3 linked regions of the Homo sapiens genome follow. The protein of the gene in region 2 interacts with the protein of the main gene of each other region in a pairwise test. Each region holds a gene or a part of one and is shown on either strand. Other genes may lie near its edges.

Evidence for each region.
Region 1: the proteins of CMTM7 (region 2) and TMEM106C interact in binary tests that used the Homo sapiens proteins (3 or more experiments, as listed by UniProt).
Region 3: the proteins of CMTM7 (region 2) and THAP4 interact in binary tests that used the Homo sapiens proteins (3 or more experiments, as listed by UniProt).

Annotation. Positions count from the first base shown.
Region 1 is NC_000012.12:47,965,931-47,969,700, reverse strand, and holds the end of TMEM106C (transmembrane protein 106C), read right to left. Parts: coding exon 3,704-3,770; intron 3,613-3,703; coding exon 3,472-3,612; intron 3,019-3,471; coding exon 2,969-3,018; intron 2,494-2,968; coding exon 2,440-2,493; intron 1,569-2,439; coding exon 1,472-1,568; 3' UTR 823-1,471; downstream 1-822.
Region 2 is NC_000003.12:32,386,539-32,395,678, forward strand, and holds the start of CMTM7 (CKLF-like MARVEL transmembrane domain-containing protein 7), read left to right. Parts: upstream 1-5,314; 5' UTR 5,315-5,368; coding exon 5,369-5,527; intron 5,528-9,140.
Region 3 is NC_000002.12:241,598,837-241,606,823, forward strand, and holds part of THAP4 (peroxynitrite isomerase THAP4), read right to left. Parts: intron 7,638-7,987; coding exon 7,478-7,637; intron 4,244-7,477; coding exon 4,134-4,243; intron 3,164-4,133; coding exon 3,060-3,163; coding exon of another isoform or gene 2,979-3,059; intron 1-2,978. UniProt on the Homo sapiens protein: Heme-binding protein able to scavenge peroxynitrite and to protect free L-tyrosine against peroxynitrite-mediated nitration, by acting as a peroxynitrite isomerase that converts peroxynitrite to nitrate.

The DNA.
Region 1 (3,770 bases), on a different chromosome or scaffold from region 2:
CCATGAAAAATCTGTTACACAGGCTATTTGGAAAACAGGAAAACTAAAGAGCAAATGTAGCAACGTGAACATCTTCATGTGTTTAGGGCATGTTCTGATTAGGGCAGCATGCTCAGAAACGGTGCACATTTGCTTCCGTGTAAGTGGTGATGTCCTATCATCAATCCACATCAGTCATCACTGTCATGTACCTGTGTCACTACATGATCCAGGACAACACCAAAACTTAAGCCTCAGCTTCTGGGTTCCTCCGTTATGGTCGAAGTCAGCCCAACAGTCATGAAATTTAGCTTTAGTTTGAAGATTCAAGACTATACAGATCATTAAGCAAATATTGAAAACCAAGCTATGGGAATGGAGACAAAAACTAATATACAACCCCAGCCACCACCTGTTGTTGTTAGGGTTTCCTGAGGTCCCAGTGCTATGGGAAGAGCTGACTTCTAACACCTGACTACTCAAGCTTCTTAACTAGATTCTCTGCCATCCTGGGGCTGTAGCCTAACCTCTGGTGGCAGAGCAGGTGGAGATGACCCAAGAAACTTACAACCTCAAACCAGGATGTCTTATTCAAGACTGAATTCCAACCTCCATGGGGCACTGAGTGCTCTGTCCTGGAAGGGAACAGGGTAGCCCCCTGCCGCAAGAGGCAGATGGAAGAAAATGAGGCTGCTTGCTGTGACAGGAACTCATGGGAACGGGAGTACAATCAGGGTGCAGTCTCTTTCCTCCTATTCCATCCTGACCCACTTGGAAGGGAACTATTCTACGGTTCCCCCAGAGATCCCTACAAAACACCCAGGCAATCAGAGGAGACACAGATGAATCAAAAGCAGGGTTTATTTTTCTATCAAATCCCCAATCCATGTTCCAGCCAATGGATGAAGGGTGAATCAAGCCCCACATAGACTCTTGGTAAAAACAATTCTAACTTTCTAAAAAAAAAAAAAGCCAACACACTTTTTTCTTTCTTTTCAAAAAGCTCCCAGGCCTTTGGGAACAGCTGAAACAAATTCATATCCTGACTAGGTCTGTTTTCTCTTAGGTATTTGGATGGTCCCTCTCTGCTGCCACTTCTGCACAGATGAGGCACTGATAATGGCCTGCAGGTCACTCACAATCCTAGCTCCACATCACTCCATGGTTTGATAACCTAGAACCACGTTATGATTTCCATTTATAATGCCCTAAGAACAGCTGAAAAGATCTGTATTAAATTCTGCAAATCTTTATTGAGTGCCAACTATTTGCTGGGCACAGGCTAGGCACTGATTCTGCTGGTTCTGAGAAACATAAATGGTACCATAGGGAGGTGTTTCCTCCTAAGTGGCAGGAGGATGTTTGCTGGGAGTTAAGTGAACCAATTCCTCCTCTGCTTACACCACGTGGGGGTAGGTCCAGAACTCAGGCCTTGGGAACATATGCTGTGCTCTCTTCTACAGGCGCTGTGTGGAAGAACCAATAGCAGTTGTTAAATAGCTGTGGAATTTCCTCCACAATCCACATAGTGATGTGTCTCCAAGGAGCTCTGGGTCATGAGGCCAATGTATGAAATCTTCACTGAAGTTCTAGGGAAAAGAAAACCAAGAAGAATTAATTATGTTTGGGGGATGAAATAAGCCAGAAAAATGTCCCAGGAAATTTTTTGCAAGTTCAGAGAACAATACCCACGGGCCCCAGGCACATATCCTCATGGTTATGTAACCAGGAGGCCAGAAGATCTTTCCACTTTCACAGAGATACTGTGCCAGGAGGTGGCCTTCCAAACAAGGCTTCTCAATCGAGAATGATTTTACCCCACAGGAGACTTCTGGCAATGCCTGAAGACATTCTGGGTTGTCACAACTAAGGGATGGAGGGTTTACTACTGGGATCTAGTGGGCAGATGCCAGGAATACTGTTAAACATCCTATAATGCACAGAACAGCCCCCTACAACAAAGGTCTGGCCCAAAATGTTCGTAGTGCCAAGGCTGAGAAACTCTGCTCTAACCCCTCATATTTCATGTCTGCAGCAGAGTCTTGTCACTTGCAAATTTAACAGCCATGCTTCCAGAAAACAACCCTAAAGGTCCATGACATGTGGTAATTTGTGTGGCTAGAGAGGAAGTCTGGTCAAATGCCCAGTACTTAACATCTTGAGAAAGCTTTTCTGTTCATGACTGTCTCATTAGGATTCTGAGGGGATCAAGTGTTTAGTTAAACTAGACCCATTTTATGGAGAAAATGTTTGACTGCTCAGGGTGACTGGTGATTTGTGAAGGGCATGTGGACACTGTGTTTAGAGAACACCAAGGGTCTACTGTATCTGTGCCTGTGAGGCACAGGGTGTCCCCTCGGGCTAGGTGCCTCTGCCCTGTGGTCACACAGGGGCCTCCTGAGCAAAGGTGGTAGGCTCACATGGCCGGACAGGCCATCGGGATAGGGAAGAGAGACGCACCGCATGAAGATCACTATGTTGTGCACCAGGATCTCAGGTACCGTGCAGAAGAAGCTACCAAACAGCAAATATGGAAATAGTCAGTTTTTTTTTTTTTAAAGCCTCAGTAGAAGAGTGCAGAGTTACACTGTCCTGTTTGGGGTGCCCCCCTCCCCCTTCCGACCTAAGTGCTGCCAAGGCTTGTCAGCTCTCAGTCCCTGCCACTGTCATTTTCATCCTCCCACAGCGTCATACCACTTTCTGTTTTTTCAAACCCATCACATAAGTGCTGGAGCTTGGTAACGTTTTTAGTGGCTTAATGTTCTCTTTTAGAAATTCCAGCACTTCTGTCACATATCAAATAATACATTCTTCAAATACACACATAATAATAATACATTCTTCAAATAAATCTCAAGACATCCAAAGCCAGGGAACCTATAAGTCAAAAGCTGAGATCTAAGGCAGGACCAGGCCCCAATCAATGGAGTATGACTTTGAATCCCTTTCCTCCAGTAGAGAGCACACACAGAGAGAACAGTGTCCTTACTACACATAGGAAAACGGTCCTCCCATCTCGGCCTTCCCGGTAAAATTCACCTGAAAATAAGATACCAGAGTTGGTCTGTGGCCAAGCAGGCTTGACACAGAACAGTATTATTATTAGCAATCCAAAGACCTTGGGTCATTCTTCCATCACATGCAAAATACTTCCCTGAGATTGTCCCTAATATAGTCTATGAGCCTCTAATTGATACTGCCAACCTCTTCCCTTTTGAGAGGCCAATGGACCTCAGGCTGTAACACTGCTGCTTCTTATTTTGTAGCAAATCTTTGTCTCTTACAAATTATTCTGCTCCCCAAATGCTTAAATGATAGCTGTTTTTTCTCACAATTATTTATAATTACAGGGCCCAACAGGTCTTCCTCATCACCAGTTCCTACAAGTAGAAATGAGGAGACAAAAAGGAAAGTGACACAGCTATGGCATTCCTACAGCCCCCTACTCTTCTCTTAGGCCTGTGGGGCAAGATTCCTAAAAGAACAGCATACCAGTTGCTCACTCCGAGGTGGAATAAGGGAGACGTTAGTAGTCACATATGTACTGACCACTGTGTTCATGTACTGAATCTGGCTGGACAGGCTGGTCACTGCCACCGTGTAGAAGTTGGAGTTCCTGATTTTCAGGGTGGCCTACATCAGGGCAAGTCAGGAAACAAGTGTAAGTGTCCTGGGTCCCAGCCTGGCAGGTGCACAACCCAGGGAATGAAACCCTAAGGCTTACCATGATGGTGAGAATTACAAGGGAGTCTTGCTTATTAAATGTGACTTTCACCACTTTGATGCCGTCA
Region 2 (9,140 bases):
AAGGCTGATATTGGAAGAGTTTCATGGACACCTGATGCCTTTGTCTGCCTGGCATAGCTCAGACTTCCTAACAAAATGCCATGGCCAGGTGGCTTAAACACCAGAAATTTATTTTCTCAGAGTTCTAGAGTCTGGGGAGTACAAGATCAAGGTGCTGATCGATTTGGTTCCTGTTGAGGGCTCTCTTCCTAGCTTGCAGAAAGCTACCTTCTCGTTGTATTCTCACATGGTGGAGAGAATGCCAGCAGGTTCTCTGGTGTCTTTTTTATAAGGACACCAATCCCCCCCTGAGGGCCCCACCCTCATGATCTCACCTAAGTCTAACTATTGCCCACAGGCCCCATCTCCAAATGTCATCACATTGGGCGTTAAGTCTTCAACTTTTAAATGATGGGGGGACACAAACATTCAGTGCATAACACTGCCTAATATTCACTCCGCTTTCTGATACTCGCACCCTGGTTTTCCTTTTGGGAACCACCCCTTCCTCACTCAGCTCCTGTGGTTCTACTGGGCTGAACCTATCCCACCCCCAGCTTCATGGGTAGGTAGAACTTGACCTGGCCACCAAAAATGTTCCACTCCTCTGGCCATAGTAATTCGTTGAAAGATGGAACCATGACCCATATTTGGACTAATGAGAGATAGTGCCTATTATGGACTGAATTGTGTGTCCTCCCTGCCCCAAATACATAGGTGGCAGCCTTACCCCCAAGTGTGACTGTATTTGGAGATGGACTCTTTGGGGAGATAATATGGTTAAATGAGGTCATAAGAGTGGGGCCAGAATCCAATAGGACTGGTGTCCCTTTAGGAAGAGACACCAGAGATCTCTCTCTCTCTTTCCATGTACACAGAGAAAAGGCCATGTGTGGACACAGCAAGAAGGTGGCCATCTAAAGTCATGAAGAGAGGCCTCACCAGAAACCAGCCCTGATGGCAACTGGATTTTGAACTTCTAGTCTCCAGAATTGTGAGAAGTGAATTCTTGTTGAGAAGCCACCCAGTATGTGATATTTTGTTATGGCAGCCTAAGACAGTACCAGAGCCACTGGAAAAGACAGGCTGAAATAACGAAGGCAGGATTATTGTGTAAGCCTGAGCTGTCAGAGCTCATGAGAGGGCCTGCCTGAAAAGCCAACACAGAGCAGAGTGAAGCCAGGAGATGGAGGTCCTGACTGTGCCTGAGGAGCACCTGGATCCAGCCATGCCTGAAGTGGGTGTATACCTCTGCATATCACAGTTACTCAAGCCAATGAATTATTTTGTTTTGCTTTTTATTAGTTTGTTTGTTTGTTTTTGAGACAAGGTCTCACTCTGTTGCCCAGGCTGGAGTGTAGTGGCACGATTATGGCTCACTGTAACATTGAACTCTTGGGCTCAAGTGATCTTCCCCCCGCTCAGCTTCTTAAGTTGCTTGGACTACACATCTGGCCAATTTTTTCATTTTTTGTAGAGATGGGGGTCTCACTATGCTGCCCAGGCTGGTCACAAAATCCTGGCCTCAAATGATCCTCCTGCCTCGGCCTTCCAAAATATTGGGATTATAGGCATGAGCCACCGTGCCAAGCCTATTTTGTTTTTTGTTTTGTTTTGTTTTTAAAGACAGGGTCTTGCTATGTTGCCCAGGCTGGCCTGGAACTTCAGGGCTCAAGAAATCTTCCTACCCCAGTCTCCTGAGTAGCTGGGACTACAGGCATGCACCACTGCTCCCAGCTTGAATGAACTCTTCTTTTTGCTTGATTTTAGTTTGTCTCATCAAAAGCACTGTGACTAATACAGAGTCAACTCTAATTTTATTACTTTTTTCATTATATCTGATCAGATATAACATCATAAACACACTGGTGAAGAAGAGTTATAGTCAGAGTACCACTCGAATTGAAGCTTTAAACTGTCAATAAGCCACCTGCAATCCCTCGGTGTAGAGAAAAGGAGAACTTGGACATCTTGATTTCTCACCAGGTATTCAGAGGTCACCTACCTGGTTGGTTCCCTCTTAGAGTGTGACATCTTTAAAGTGGGCTATGAAGCCCTTTGCCTAAGACCTTGCTTTCCCAAGGGGCAGCTATTCACATCTAGCAGACAACACACTAGTGTAGACATCTCAGTGCACTTGGCAAGCCTCTGAAGCCTCTTCTTGTAAGTCAGGCCAGCAATGGCCCTTGCACTGGCAAGCATCTTGCTCAAGCTCTTAAGTGATCATAATAAAGTGATTAACACAGAGTGCCCAGCACAGTGATTACTTCTGATTAGAGGTGGGTGGTGCATTAGTCAACACCAGGCAGAAAAGCCCAGCAATGTTTCTGAGCAGACTCAGGAAGAGATAGTTGTTCTCAAACTTGAGTATGCATCAGAATCACAGAATGATGGTGAAGGGGGGTGGGGAGTGAGGGTGGGGTTGGGAAGACTTGTTAAGACACACACTGCTGAGCCCTACCCCTAGAGTTTCTGATTCAGCAGGTCAGAGTGGGCCCCTAGAATCTGCATTTCTCACAAGTTCGCAGGTACTGCTGGTTGGGGGGCTATACACTGAAAATCACTGTTAGAAGACTGCTGAATTGGACAAAGGCCCCTCAAAGGAGAAATGATCCAGCACTTGGTTTTTCTGCTTCCCTGAAACCCTCATCTCAACAAAGATGCCCTGTTATCTCCACTGTGGGTCCTGAAGCCTTAGACAAGTACAGAAGTGAAATGTACATCTACATAAAAAAATGATACACAGTACTAACTTCATGCCTGTGGGTATAGAGCCAGAAATGTCACAGCACACCTGCATATCTATCACATTGTCACAGCAGCCCCTAGATGCAATTATTCCTGAATTACAGAGAAACAAATGGAGGTACCAGGCAGCTGTGACTGTTGTCTACAGAGAAGACACACGTGGAAGGCAATTTTTCTTGGTCATGAAAATTGTCAAATGTACATAAAGGTGAAATAAATAGTGTAATAAATCCCCAAATGTTTCAACTGCAGTGGACTCTGGCAATGACAGTGGTTCTCAAATTTGAGTGTGCATCAGAATCACCTAAGAGACTTGCCAAAACAGATATTGCATGGGTATCATCCACCAACAAGAATTATTAGGACTTTGCCACATCGAAAACTCTTCTGATGACAAGACAGCACTGGCAGGGAATAAACTCACAAAGATAGTTTTATGTTTCACTTTGCTTTGTTTTGTTCTTGAGGCAGGGTCTTGCTCTGTCACCCAGCCTGGAGTACAGTGTTGTAATCATGACTCACTGCAGCTTCAACCTCCCGGGCTCAAGCAATCCTCCCACCTCAGCCTCCTGAGTAGCTGGGACTACAGGCATGTGCCACCATGCCCAGTTAATTTTTGTATTTTTTTGTAGAGATGGGGTTTCTCCATGTTGCCCTTGCTGGTGTCAAACTTGGGCTTGTGAGCTTGATTTTGGGATTACAGACATGAGCCACCGTGCCCAGCCAGATTTTTTGATGTTATCTCCAAATGAATAAATGTAAGTATGGCCACAGGGACACTGCTCAAAAGGAACATGATAACATACCTCGTTTTGGTAGTCCCGTTTGGGCCTGTCTTCATTTTTATGTTTTTTTCCTTTTCTTTTTCTTTTTCTTTTTTTAAGAGACAGTGTCTCACTCTGTCACCCAGACAAGAGTGCGGTGGCAAGATCATAGCTCACTGCAATCTCGGACTCCTGGCCTCCAGGGATCTTCATGCCTTGACTTCCCAAAGTGCTGGGATTATAGGTGTGAGCCACCACGCCTGGCCTCTTCATTTTTAAAACAACCCAAAAGGGATACAGAATAGAATGTCACTTGGATAGCTGTTTGACAGCTTTTTCTTTTTCTTGTCTTTTTTTTTTTTTTTAATTGAGACAAGGTCTTGCTCTGTGGCCCAGGCTGGAGTGCAATGCCACTGTCATGGCTCACTGCAGCCTCAACCTCCTGGGCTCCAAGGCTCCTCCAGACTCAGCCTCCTGAACAGGCATGTGCCACTGCACCCAGCTAATTTATTTATTTATTTATTTTTATTTTTATTTTTATTTTGAGACAGAGTCTCGCTCTGTCGCCCAGGCTCGAATGCAGTGGCGCAAGCTCTGCTCACTGCAAGCTCCGCCTCCCGGGTTCACGCCATTCTCAGCATCCCGAGTAGCTGTGACTGCAGGCGCCCGCCACCACGCCCAGCTAATTTTTTGTATTTTTAGTAGAGACGGGGTTTCACCGTGTTAGCCAGAATGGTCTCGATCTCCTGACCTCGTGATCCGCCCGCCTCGGCCTCCCAAAGTGCTGGAATTACAGGCGTGAGCCACCGCGCCCGGCCCAGCTAATTTATTTTTATTTTTTGTTTTTTGTAGAAATGAGGTCTGGCCATGTTCCCCAGGCTGACAGCTTCTAACAGAAGCAAACATATGCTCCCCTTGTAACCAGTGCGTTCACTTGCAGATATTTGTCCCAGAGAAATGAGAGTTTGTATCCACCAAAAAAACGTGTACCATAATAGTGACTATAGCCAGAAAAGAGATGAGGGAGGGGGGAAAGGCCGGAAGGAGGGAAGGAGGCAGGCAAGCAGGTAGGAAGGAAGCAAGCTTGGTGTCCATCAACTGGGTAAACGTTTAAAAAATACGGTATCTTTGCACAGTGGAGTACTACTCAGCAATAAAAAGGAAGGAACTGATATGAACTACTTATATTCCCAACAGGATGGATCTTCTAATTTGTTATGTTGAAGGAGAATATTCTGTATTACTTCAAGTTTATGAAGTCCAAGAACAGGCAAAATGAACCTACAGTGACAGAAAGCAGAATACACTGTAGTGGTTGCCTGAGGCTGGATAAGGATGGGGCCAGGGAAGGAAGGTAGGTCAGGAAGGCCCACCACGGAACTTTCTGGGGTGATGGGCACGTTCTATTTGTTGATCTGGGCGACGGTTACACAGGTGTACACATATATAAAAATTAGTGGAGCTGAACACGTAAGGTCTGGGCATCACACTTTATGTAAGTTAAACTTCAGTAAAGTGCTCTCAGCACACATCCGCAGCCGCACCCACACAAAATCCCAGGAGGCTCAGTACCAGCTGTGGTCCGGGCCTTGCCCACCTCGGAGAGGCCACGACCCAAGGCATCCGGTTTCCTCTCGCTCCAGTCTAACTTCCGCGCATCTACGAGGGCCGGGACTGCCGCTACCTTTCTGGAAGGCGCCGGCCGGCCAGTCACCGGAGGGATCCCGCCAGAGGCGGCTCCGCGTCTCCAGCAGCGGGGCAGGGACCCGGGCGCCCCGCCCTCGCCAGCGCCCGCCCCCGCCCGCCCCCGGCCCGCCCTCTGTATCTGGCCCCTGGGCAGCTGCCCGGGGAGGCGGCCAGCGAGCTGGGGCCGCGCAATGTCGCACGGAGCCGGGCTCGTCCGCACCACGTGCAGCAGCGGCAGCGCGCTCGGACCCGGGGCCGGCGCGGCCCAGCCCAGCGCGAGCCCCTTGGAGGGGCTGCTGGACCTCAGCTACCCCCGCACCCACGCGGCCCTGCTGAAAGTGGCGCAAATGGTAAGTGAGCGCGGGGCGCGAGGCCGAGGTTCTACAGGGCGTCCCGGGAAAGCAGGGGTCCGGGAGCGGACGCGCCGGGCGTCTGGACCCGGCCGGAGCCCAGGGAGCATCGCGCAGCGGGCGGGGCACCGCGTCGCTAAAGTTCGCGGCAGGCTTCCTCCGGGAAAGTTGCTGCCGCAGCCCCCGCGCTGGAGCTCAGTCCCCAGAGCCGCCCCGGCCCTTGCTCCCGCGGACCCAGGTCGCCAGGGTCGCAAGTTTCTCCGGCCACCCCCCTGCGAAGCCTGACCCGCCTACTGACTGAAACCACGGGCAAAGTTCCTTTTCGTCTTTCTTCCTCTTCTCTGGGCCGCGCCGCTTCGAACCCGAGCCGGGGGTGGAAGAGTCGCCCAGGCGGCGGCGCTGAGGGAGCGAAACCCGACCTCTTCCCCGTCCACGGCCTCCTCTTTCCTCCGAACCCAGCGCGGCAGGGCTTCCCTGCTCTGTGTGCAGTTTCGCTCGAAGGAGGAGGTCAGAGGGTCTTGTGTTCCATAGTGGGGAAAAAGAACTGGGACCGTTGAGACGGCCGTCCTGGTCCCCTGCGCCCTCAAGTTCCGAGGGAGGGCCCGGGTCTCAGGGGGCTCTGGAGGGCAGGGGGTCAGTTGGGAAAGGCCTGTTGTCAGGGGCTGGTACTCATGTAGGGGAGCCAGACTGTTGAATGGGAGTCACCCGTGGAGCCAGGCAGGATGAGTGTCTGGGCTTGGATTGTGACCAACTCAGCACAAGGGCCTCCTACCAGGGCAGACGTTGCCTGGCCGATTCTCTTGTTCCCCACTCTTTTCTTTTCTCCCCTCCCGTTTTTTTCTTCTTTAAAAGTTTGTAATCTGAAACAACTTTTCCGTTTGTATGATGTGTTTTGAAACTGGGTTGGGCTGTTTGTGAGTCTCCACCATTGTAATGTTTGCACCAAGAACGGTGGGGAGGGGAGCGGTAAGTTTCAAAAAGAGGTGTGGGGAAAGGAGTGTGGGGCTGGACAAGGTCACACACCCAGAAGCTGGGGCCTGCTAAGGTGGCCTGGCCCCAGGGGGTTGGGCACAGGACGTCTGTGCATCTATAGCACTGCCATTCCAGACACTGAGTGTGCATGAGGTGGCCCTCATGTCTTGCTTGGGCCAGACCTAAAGAGAAGGGGCGCTGAGTTCCTGCCTCCCTAAGAACGGTGTCTAGATAGACCAAAAACTAGGAAGAGCCATTTCAGCAACGTACAAAAAAATCTGGTGCTGAGCATTGTTGGGTTTGAGCAGGGCATTTTTTGGCCCAGGCTAAGAGATTTGATCAGCCAAATAGAAGAGACCAGCCCATCTCACCATCCTTAAAAGATGGGCTGGGGTGAGACATATCCTACCTGAGCATTGGAAGGGATGAGTTTGGTAGACAGAGAATGGGATCAGAAGCCTCCATCTTGGCCCCTGAGTTTGCTGGACAAAGATATTGTGGGATGAAAAGTCTTCTTGTTGGTCTATGAGTTTGGTACACAAACATAATGGAGATGAAACCTCGGCAACATAGCGAGACCCCATCTCTACAAAAAAAATTTTAAAACCTTGTGTGGTTGGCATGGGCCTCTAGTCCCAGTTACTTGGGAGGCTGAGGTGAGAGGATTGATTGAACTGAGAAGGTCAGTGAACTGTGCCACTGCACTAGTCTGCGTGACGGAGGGAGGCCTGTCTCAAAAAAAAAAAAAAAAAAAGGTACAAAGAAAAGGTAATGGAGATGAGAAGCCTTCATGTGGTCCATGATTTTGATGAATAAAGATACTGGGAGATGAGAAATCTCCATCTCATCTTAAGCTCCTCAGCTAGCCTCTGGCCTGTGGTCCTTGGGCCAATTTGCAAGTGGCAAGAGTGGGGCCTGTTGTTCCAAAAAAGAGAACAAAGACTTGAATAATTTCTTTATCTGGTTGCTTATTCTCTATGTGCTCCTCTTAAAACCATGCTGAGGAGTCTTACACCTGCCCTGGAGGATTCCCCATCACTGCTGCAGGCTTGTTTGATCAGACCCTCTGGGAGCAAAGTTGCCCTTGCAGGATGGCTGTATTAGTCCTAGTTAGGGCTATCTACTTGGGCCTCTTATCTAACTCCTCCCTATTTTCCCACTTCTCCTCTTTTCTAAGACTCTGCTTGGGCATTTGAGGTTCATTTGTCTTCTTTGCTGGAAAATGCTTGTTTAGCCAAGTTTTAACATTGGGGAAGGGCAGAAGCAGCTAAATTAATGCCACCCATTGGGGCTTTCTTTCTATGGGTCTCTCATTTTGACCATCAGTTTCTCAGTTTCATACTGAACAGGTTGACCCTTTTGTCCTCAGCTTCTCATGAAATGTTTTCATCATGATCTGATCAATAGATCTGCCAACACGTTGTCTTAAGAAATCATTGCAAAGGCTGTTCCACTGGAGAATGACTTCCCTTGTCTTGGCCTCTTCTGGGTCCACCATTACTAGAAAATGAGTTTCTGAGTGAATGTGTGTACTTGACATGTCATTTATACATGTGTAATTTTTATAATCCTCTGGCCATGATAATTCAGTTTCTTTGGTCTTCCTTTTTGGAGTAGAGACACAGTCACAGGTTTTGACTTTTGACTTTAAAGCACTCTTTTTTTTCTTTCTTTCTTGAGAGGGAGTCTTGCTCTGTCACCAGGCTGGAGTGCAGTGGAACGATCTCAGCTCACTGCAACCTCTGCCTCCCGAGTTCAATCAAATCTCCTGTCTCAGCCTCACGAGTAGCTGGGACTACAGGCACGTGCCACCACACCCAGCTAATTTTTGTATTTTTAGTAGAGATGGGGTTTCACCATGTTGGCCAGGATGGTCTTGATCTCTTGACCTCATGATCCGCCCCCGCCTCTGCCTCCCAAAGCGCTGGTATTACAGGTGTGAGCTGCCGCGCTCGGCTAAATGACTTTTTTTTTTTTGAGCGAGACAGAGAGGGTCTTGCTCTGTCACCCAGGCTGGAGGACAGTGGTGTTATCATGGCTTACTGCAGCCTTAACCTCCTGGGCTCGGCGATTGTCCCACCTCAGCCTCCCGAGTAGCTGGGACTATAGGCACCCACCACGATGCCCAGCTAAATTTTGTATTTTTTGATACAGACGGGGTTTTGCTATGTTGCCCAGACTGGTCTTGAACTTAGAGATTCAAGGGATCTGTCCACCTCGGCCTCCCCAAGTGCTGGGATTACAGGTGAGCCACTGCGCCTGCATGAGACTCTTTTTTTTAATAGCTATTTTTTTTTAGCCCTATTATTGTTCTAGTAATTACATACTATATACCATGTGTGTATAATCTCATTAAATGTTTCTAAGAATCCAGTGAAGTAACATGTTTGATAGATAAGGAAACGGGCTAAAGAGTTAAAGAGACACTAAAGTCACACAGCTCTTAGCAGTAGTGGTGGAACCGATCCAGGCCTAATGGCCTGATCTCCAAAACTCATAACTCTGGCAGAGTTGTTGCTTGTTAATAGTTCTAGGGATATAAAAGCCACAGTGAGATAACACTTCACACCCACGGAGATGACAACAATAGAAAACAACAAGTGATGAAGATGTGGAGGATGTGAAGAAATTGGAACTCTGA
Region 3 (7,987 bases), on a different chromosome or scaffold from region 2:
ATTTCTGAATACAATTCTTGGCATACTAGAAACTGAATCTTCTTAACCTGAAAAAGACTGCCTTTACCAAGATACGCACCTGCACTGGAAAAAAAAAAAAGTAGAAAAATTTTACAACTAAAAAAAAGGCTATCCGGCTGGGCGCAGTGGCTCATGCCCAATCCCAACACTTTAGGAAGCTGAGCCGGGTGGGTCACTTGAGATCAGGAATTCAAGACCAGCCTGGCCAACATGGTGAAACCCCATCTGTACTAAAAATACAAAAATTAGCTGGGTGTGGTGGTGCATGCCTGTAACCCCAGCTACTTGGGAGGCTGAGGCATGAGAATCGCTTGAACTCAGGAGGCGGAGGTTGCAGTGAGCTGAGATCGTGCCACTGCATTCCAGCCTGGGCAACAGATTGAGACTCTGTCTCAAAAAAAAAAAAAAGCTACCTTCTTATCTACCAGTAAGTAATCTACAGTGAGCATCTTACAGGTGGTGACACACAGAACTATTTCCACTAGAGTCAGGGACAAGCATGCAACAAACATTCACGCCTGTTGTTCTATCCATGCTGTGCCTAAGATCCTGGCTGTCTGAAAGTTACACCAGTGGCCCAGTTCAACACAGAGAAATCAGAAGTGTCCACACAATTATCAATAATCAATCTGAAGATTAAATGGGAAAAAATCTATTTACAAGCAACAAAAATGATAAAACACTTGAGTTTACCCTAACATGAAATGTACAAGACCTGTATAATTAAAACTATAAAGAAATAAAGCTTTTCTATATACTAAAATACACAAAACATGACCTAAAGTCACCGTAATACACTGTCACGCTGCATATTGCTACCCATGAAAATATGTCAATTCTACCCAAATTCATTCATGTATTCAATGCAGTCTTGATGTACATTTTATAAGCCTTGAGATGTTTATTCAAAAGTTCATCTAGAAGAGGAAATGCTTAAGAATGAGTAAGAAAATTTGGAGAAAAAATGTGGGAAACGTTCCCTTAGACATTAACATGTAATATACAGCTGTGAGAGCTAAAAATGTGTTACTGGTAAGGAAGTGGACAAGCAGACGAAGAAAGACAAACGAGGCTGGGCACAGTGGCTCATGCCTGTAATCCCAGCACTTGGGAGGCTGAGGCAGGCGGATCACTTGAGGTCAGGAGTTTGTGACCAGCCTGGTCAACATGGCTACTAAAAATACAAAAATTAGCTGGGCATGGTGGCACATGCCTGTAATCCCAGCTACTCGGGAGGCTGAGGCAGGAGAATCACCTGAACCCGAGAGGTGGAGGCTACAGTGAGCTGAGATTGTGCCACTGCACTCCAGCCTGGGCAACAGAGCAAGACTCCTTCTCAAAAAAAGGAAAAAAGAAAAAAAGAAACAGACCCCTATATTTATGTGGATGTGCTTTAATGTATGTATGACATTCCAAATCTGTGGAGTCAGGATGGAATTCGATGAATGGTGTTGGGACTACTGGGTCACTCATCTGGAAGAGTTAGAATTATACGCTGCGTCACTCAAAAAACAAATGTGAGAGAGATTAAAGGTCTAGGTGGTAATGTAAAAAGGAAAGCTGTAAGAATACAAGAAATGAAAGAACAGGCTGGGCGCGGTGGCTCACGCCTGTAATCCTAGCACTTTGGGAGGCCGAGGCAGGTGGATCACAAGGTCAGGAGATCGAGACCATCCTGGCTAACACAGCGAAACCCCGTCTCTACTAAAAACACAAAAAAATGATCTGGGTGTGGTGGCGGGCACCTGTAGTCCCAGCTACTCGGGAGGCTGAGGCAGGAGAATGGCGTGAACCCAGGAGGCAGAACATGCAGTGAGCCGAGATTGCTCCACTGCACTCCAGCCTGGGTGACAGAGTGAGACTCCGTCTCAAAAAAAAAAAAAAAAAGAAAGAAAATGAGAGAATATTTTTATCATTTTGGAGTGGACAACAACTTCCTTAGCAAGAACCCAAATCCAGACATTGTAAAGGAAACAGCCCAGAGGCAACAACAGGAAAGCTGAGCACCTGTGGGGCACAGCCCATCATGGACCAGGCCACAGACTAGGGAAGTATGTGTCACAAATAAAGCAGACAACAGATTAACCCATGGCATACAGAAAGCTCCTACAAATCTTTAAAAAAAAAAAAGGACAATCTGGCCGGGCACGGTTGTTCATACCTGTAATCCCAGCACTTTGGGAGGCTGAGGCGGGTGGATCACCTGAAGTCAGGAATTCAAGACCAGCCTGACCAACATGGAGAAACCCTGTCTCTACTAATAATACAAAATTAGCCAGGCGTGGTGGCGCATGCCTGTAATCCCAGCTACCCAGGAGGCCGAGGCAGGAGAATCGCTTGAACCTGAGAGGCGGTGGTTGCGATGAGCCGAGATCCCACCTTTGCATTCCAGCCTGGGCAACAGAGCGAAACTCCGCCTCAAAAAAGAACAATCCACAGAAAAACAGGCAAAGACTTTAAATATCAAGTGCACAGAATAAGAAGCGTAAACAGCCAGTGAGCATGGGGAATGAGCCCTCCTGCTTCTAAGTTAGATTCAAAACATGAGTGAGATTTCATCTTTTATTTCTCAGATTTGAAAGGACCGAAATTCTGAAAATACACCATGTTGTTAAGGAGTAGGGAACCAGCTGCCCTCATGCAAGAGATAGTGGGAGGATAATCATGAAGAAATACAATCTAACAGTGTGTATCAAATTTAAAATGTACCTGTCCTTTGATCCAGCAATTTAACTGGGAAAAATTTATCAATAGATATGGATATATCTGTAAACGTGGACAACCCAAATGCAAAAGGATGTTTGTGACAAACAACAAACCTCAAAAAAACCACACCACTGACCAGCCGAGGAGGGGGCAATGAATTTAGGGAACATCCACCCTGGATGGTCCGAGAAGGGAAAAGAAGGAGACAGTGAAGACAGGCCTGTGAGACACAGTGGCAAGACACGCACTACCTCACGGAAGAGGAAGAGGCTGACTCCACAGACCGCTGCAAACAGAAGACAGGAGCGTGCTGGGAGCAGGGCTGGGCTCACCTGCTCTACGTGGGGCTCCTTGGCGAAGGAGATCCTGGCGATGGAGTGGGATGCGATGCACAGCTCCTGCCCGTTCACCTCGCCCTCCTCCACTTCCACCACGCCTGCAAGGGAAGGGCAGTCAGCTCACCCAGCAGCTGCTCGGCTTGCAGAGAGGCAGCCTTGACTCTCCTTGCCTGCAAGCCGGGACTCCACAGGAGGCCCCAACTCTGCAGCTGTGGAAGCAACGATATTTCTCCTCCTCCCCACTTCACCCTGTGGATACGGAGGGAAAGCCACAACTCTCCTCACAGAACAGGCAGGTGCTCTATGGAAGGCCACCCTCTCCAGACTGGGCCCCAGCCCTCCCACCTCCACCCACCAATCAGCCTGGCAGAACCACCCCTAGCACATACAGTGGCAGAAGTCGCAGGTGGGAATGGACGTCCAGGAAGAAACACTGATCTAGAGTCACGCAGGCTGGTTTTTTTTTTTTTCTTTTTTTTTTGAGACAGAATCTCGCTCTGTTGCCCAGGCTGGAGTGCAGTGGCGCATTCTTGGCTCACCGCAACCTCTGCCTCCCAGGTTCAAGTGATTCTCCTGCCTCAGCCTCCCAAGTGGCTTGGGATTACAGGCATGCACCACCACACCCAGCTAATTTTTGTATTTTTAGTAGAGACGGGATTTCAGTATGTTGGCCAGGCTGGTCTTGAACTCCTGACCTCAAGTGATCTGCCCACCTAGGCCTCCCAAAGTGCTGGGATTACAGGCGTGAGCCACTGTGCCCAACCTGTTTTCCAGCAATTCCTAATGAATGCACACAGCTGATGGCCATTTCTGCAGACGTGGCACTGGGTAAACGGGCCCTCATGGTCAGGGGGCTGCACGCACACAACCTGTGTGCCGGAGGCCCCTACAGCTACACAGTCGGCCCCGCAGGCTCCCAGGACCACTCTCAACACTCAGGGCCATCCCCACGGTCCCCACCAGCACATGCCTCAGCAGGGTTGCACATGGGCATCCCTGCACCCCTGCTTCGAATGCAGGCAGCAGCCTCCCATGGCCAGCCCTCCCGCCCCGCAAGCTGGGCCTCACCTGTGTTCTGGGCGCTGACAAAGGCCACCTTGTTGGTGTCGGGCTTGAGGCGAATGAAGCCACACTCTCTGTGCATCGGCTTGCGCGTGTCCGGGTGGAAGGAGTTGAACCTGGACGGGAAGTTGGAGTTGAGAAGCCCAGGCACTGGCCTCCAAGATGGCGTGGGCTGCGTGGATGCCAGAACTGTCCAGGGTGCCCTCCAGGTGGCTGCTCCAGCCACACCCGCACACCTGTCTGCCCCTACCACCACCTTGCTCATTTTGGCTGTGTCTGTCTTACCTGCTGACCCTCCACTCCTGAAGACGGGCTGTTCCAGCCACGCCCACACACCTGCCCGCCCCCTCCACCACCTTGCTCATTTTGGCTGTGTCTGTCTTGCCTGCTGACCCTCAGCTCCTGAAGACGGGCTGTTCCAGCCACACCCGCACACCTGCCCGCCCCCTCCAGCGCCTTGCTCATTTTGGCTGTGTCTGTCTTACCTGCTGACCCTCAGCTCCTGAAGACGGGCTGTTCCAGCCACACCCGCACACCTGCCCGCCCCCTCCACCACCTTGCTCATTTTGGCTGTGTCTGTCTTGCCTGCTGACCCTCAGCTCCTGAAGACAGCACTGTTCTTAATCACCTCAGGGCATATCCTTGCCCTGGGCCCGTTAGCCCAGGCCTCACACAGTGTCAGCCCTCAGCACTCCCTTGCAGTAAACCTCACCCTAACACAATCTTTCTCTTTTGAGCTATGCTCTTGTGTAAGAATCTAATCAATTCCTACGGTAAAAAACAGAACAGGTGCTGAGTTATGGTATGGTTTCTTATCACCCTTCATCATTAGTGCAAATTCTCAACAGTAAAAGACAGGCACCTGCATCTTGAACTGAGGGCACAAAACCACGGCTTAAAAACTAACTCGCTGGCATGGTGACTCAAGGCCGTAATCCCAGCACTTCAGGGGCCCAGTCGGGTAGATCTCTTGAGCCTAGGAATTTGAGACAGGGCTGGGCAACACAGACCCTGTTTCTACAAAAATAAAAACAAAAAAACCAAACCAAAAAAAAAAAAGCCTCATTTATCATTTCACCAACCTTATGAGTTTCTATAGGGAATCCATCTCTATGATTCTTAGAGATAAACTTTATTTATTTATTTTTTTGCTCTGTCACCCAGGCTCGTCGCGGTCTCAGCTCAGTGAAACCTCCGCTTCCTGGGTTGAAATGATTCTCCTGTCTCAGCCTCCTGAGTAGCTGGGATTACAGGCGCCCACCACACCCGGCTAATTTATTTATTTATTTATTTATTTATTTTTTGAGACAGAGTTTCTCTCTTGTTGCCCAGGCTGGAGTGCAATGGCGCTATCTTGGCTCACTGCAACCTCCGCCTCCTGAGTTCAAGCGATTCTCCTGCCTCAGCCTTACCGAGTAGCTGGGATTACAGGCATGCGCCACCATGCCCGGCTAATTTTGTAATTTTAGTAGAGACCAGGTTTCTCCATGTTGGTCAGGCTGATCTTGAACTCCCAACCTCAGGTGATCTGCCCACCTCAGCCTCTCAAAGTGCTGGGATTACAGGTGTGAGCCACTGTGCCCAGCCACACACCCGGCTAATTTTTGTATTTTTGTATTTTTTTTTAGTAGAGACACAATTTCACCACATTGGCCAGGCTGGTCTCGAACTCTTGACTTCTAGTGATCCACCTGCCTTGACCTCCCAAAGTGCTGGGATTACAGGCGTCAGCCACCGCACCTGGCCAAGATAAACTTATTTATTTATTAAAACAAATTTTTTTAGGGTCTCACTGTGTTGCCCAGGCTGGTCTTGGACTCCTGGACTCAAGTGATCCACCCGCCTTGGCCTCCCAAAGTGCTGGGATTACAGGCACGAGCCACCGCGCTGGGCCAAGATAAATTTCTGTTGGGCTAGTGATGGTGCTACACCTTCTAGAATGGTACATGCTCACTAACATAACCCCGACAAAGAAATACATTTATACCATATTCTAGGACACACACACAAACACACATACCATCACATTTACTGAAATATATTTTCCACTCTGGTTCATTTTTCTTCGAATGCTAGTCACAAAATTGACTTTCTGACCTTTTCGTGGGTTATAATCTATAGTTTAAAAAAGACTGCTTGGGTTCTGGGTTATTTTGTATTACCCAGAATTCTCACCTTTTGGTTTATGTGCAGATGTATTACTTTGACCTCATGCATTCAATCAATAATAATATAAAAAGGTAGGAGATATTTTTAAAAACAATGAGATCTTCTAAAAGGGGATGGAGGGTCTCAGAGCTGGGGGTCTGAGAGCCAGGTGCCCAGCCCCGTTCTGAAACTGCTAGGCATTATACAAATAGTACCAAGTTGGTTTAATAAGATTCTTAACATATAGTTGTGTAATGGAGACTAAGGGAGGGTTTGCTTTTTATATTTTGTTTAAACTTTAAAAAAACTGTGTATTACTTCTATAATTAAAAAATAAAGATACTTCAACCACTCCCCATCCCTGGTGGCTCTCCTCTACTTCAGAGGCCTACACTGCTATCTCCCTAAAAGCAGGCAATTTCTCCACCTGTGGGGAGCAGGTGGTGGGAAGGGATACTGAGGGACCTCAAGGGGCTTTTGCTTTCTTGTACGGTAAGAATATGAGAACCACATACTAACAGCTTCCTTGTGACCCCAAATAGCTCAGGGGTACGTGTAAAATACAAACATGCACTATTATTTTCAGTAATATTGGGTGACTAATTTTTTTCTTTTTTTTTTTGAGACAGGTTCTCACTCTGTCACCCAGGCTGGAGTACAGTGTTATGATCACAGCTCACTGTAGCCTTGGCCCTCCCTGGGTTCAAGCAATCCTCCCACCTCAGTTTCTCGAGTAGCTGGGACTACAGGCATGTGTCACCACACCTGGCTAAATACTTTTCAGTAGAGACAAGGTCTCACTATGTTGCCCAGGCTGGTCTTCAATTCCTAAGCTCAAGCAATCCTCCTGACTCAGCCTCTAAAGTGCTGGGATTACAGGTATGAGCTACCGCACTGGCCAGGGTGATTAATTTTGATACATAAATTAAGTACATGCATTTGTTTTTATGTTTGGATTAACAAGCCTGTAATTTGGTGGTCAGCTTAATATCTCCAAAAATATAACAGAACCAGAAAGTATCATTTTTACCACTCTGTGTCTCAGTTGCACATTCAGGCAAGAGGACACCTTTCTGAAATAGATGGACAAGTTCCTTTTACACCTTCCTGCTTGGCCTTTGTCTTTGATCAGTCTGGAATTATTTTCAGAGACCTAGGCGGCCCATGAGTCAAGCAGGGTGGGGTGGAGGGAGACAACTTACGAGAAGTTCAGCATGGGCTGGCCCACGTGGGAGATGTGAACCTCCTCCAGGTACTGGAAGGGCTGCAGTGTGGGGTAGGTCCCGGCTCCAGGTGGGTCCGACAGCCAGGTGCCCAGCATCCAGGACAGTGGCTCCACCACTGGGTTCATCTTGGGGGGCTCTGAGGACAAAAGAATGAGACTATCAGTGGCCTCCCTCCAACCATGCCTTGCTGAGCTTTAAGCAGAATGCACGTTCCATATCGACGCTTGCTTCTGGTGGCCACAGCTAATCCTGGGGGACCTGTCAAGAGCGGGAGAAAATGGTCAAGCAACTGTAAATGTCATAGTGAAAGATCCAGCTTCAGAAGCCTCTGCAGTTCCTGCAGAGAAAAGAGATCCAACAGGGGCCAGGCAGGGCGCAAGCAAAGAGGCCTACACTGCTATCTCCCTAAAAGCAGGCAATTTCTCCACCTGTGGGGTGCAGGTGGTGGGAAGGGATACTGAGGGACCTCAAGGGGCTTTTGCTTTC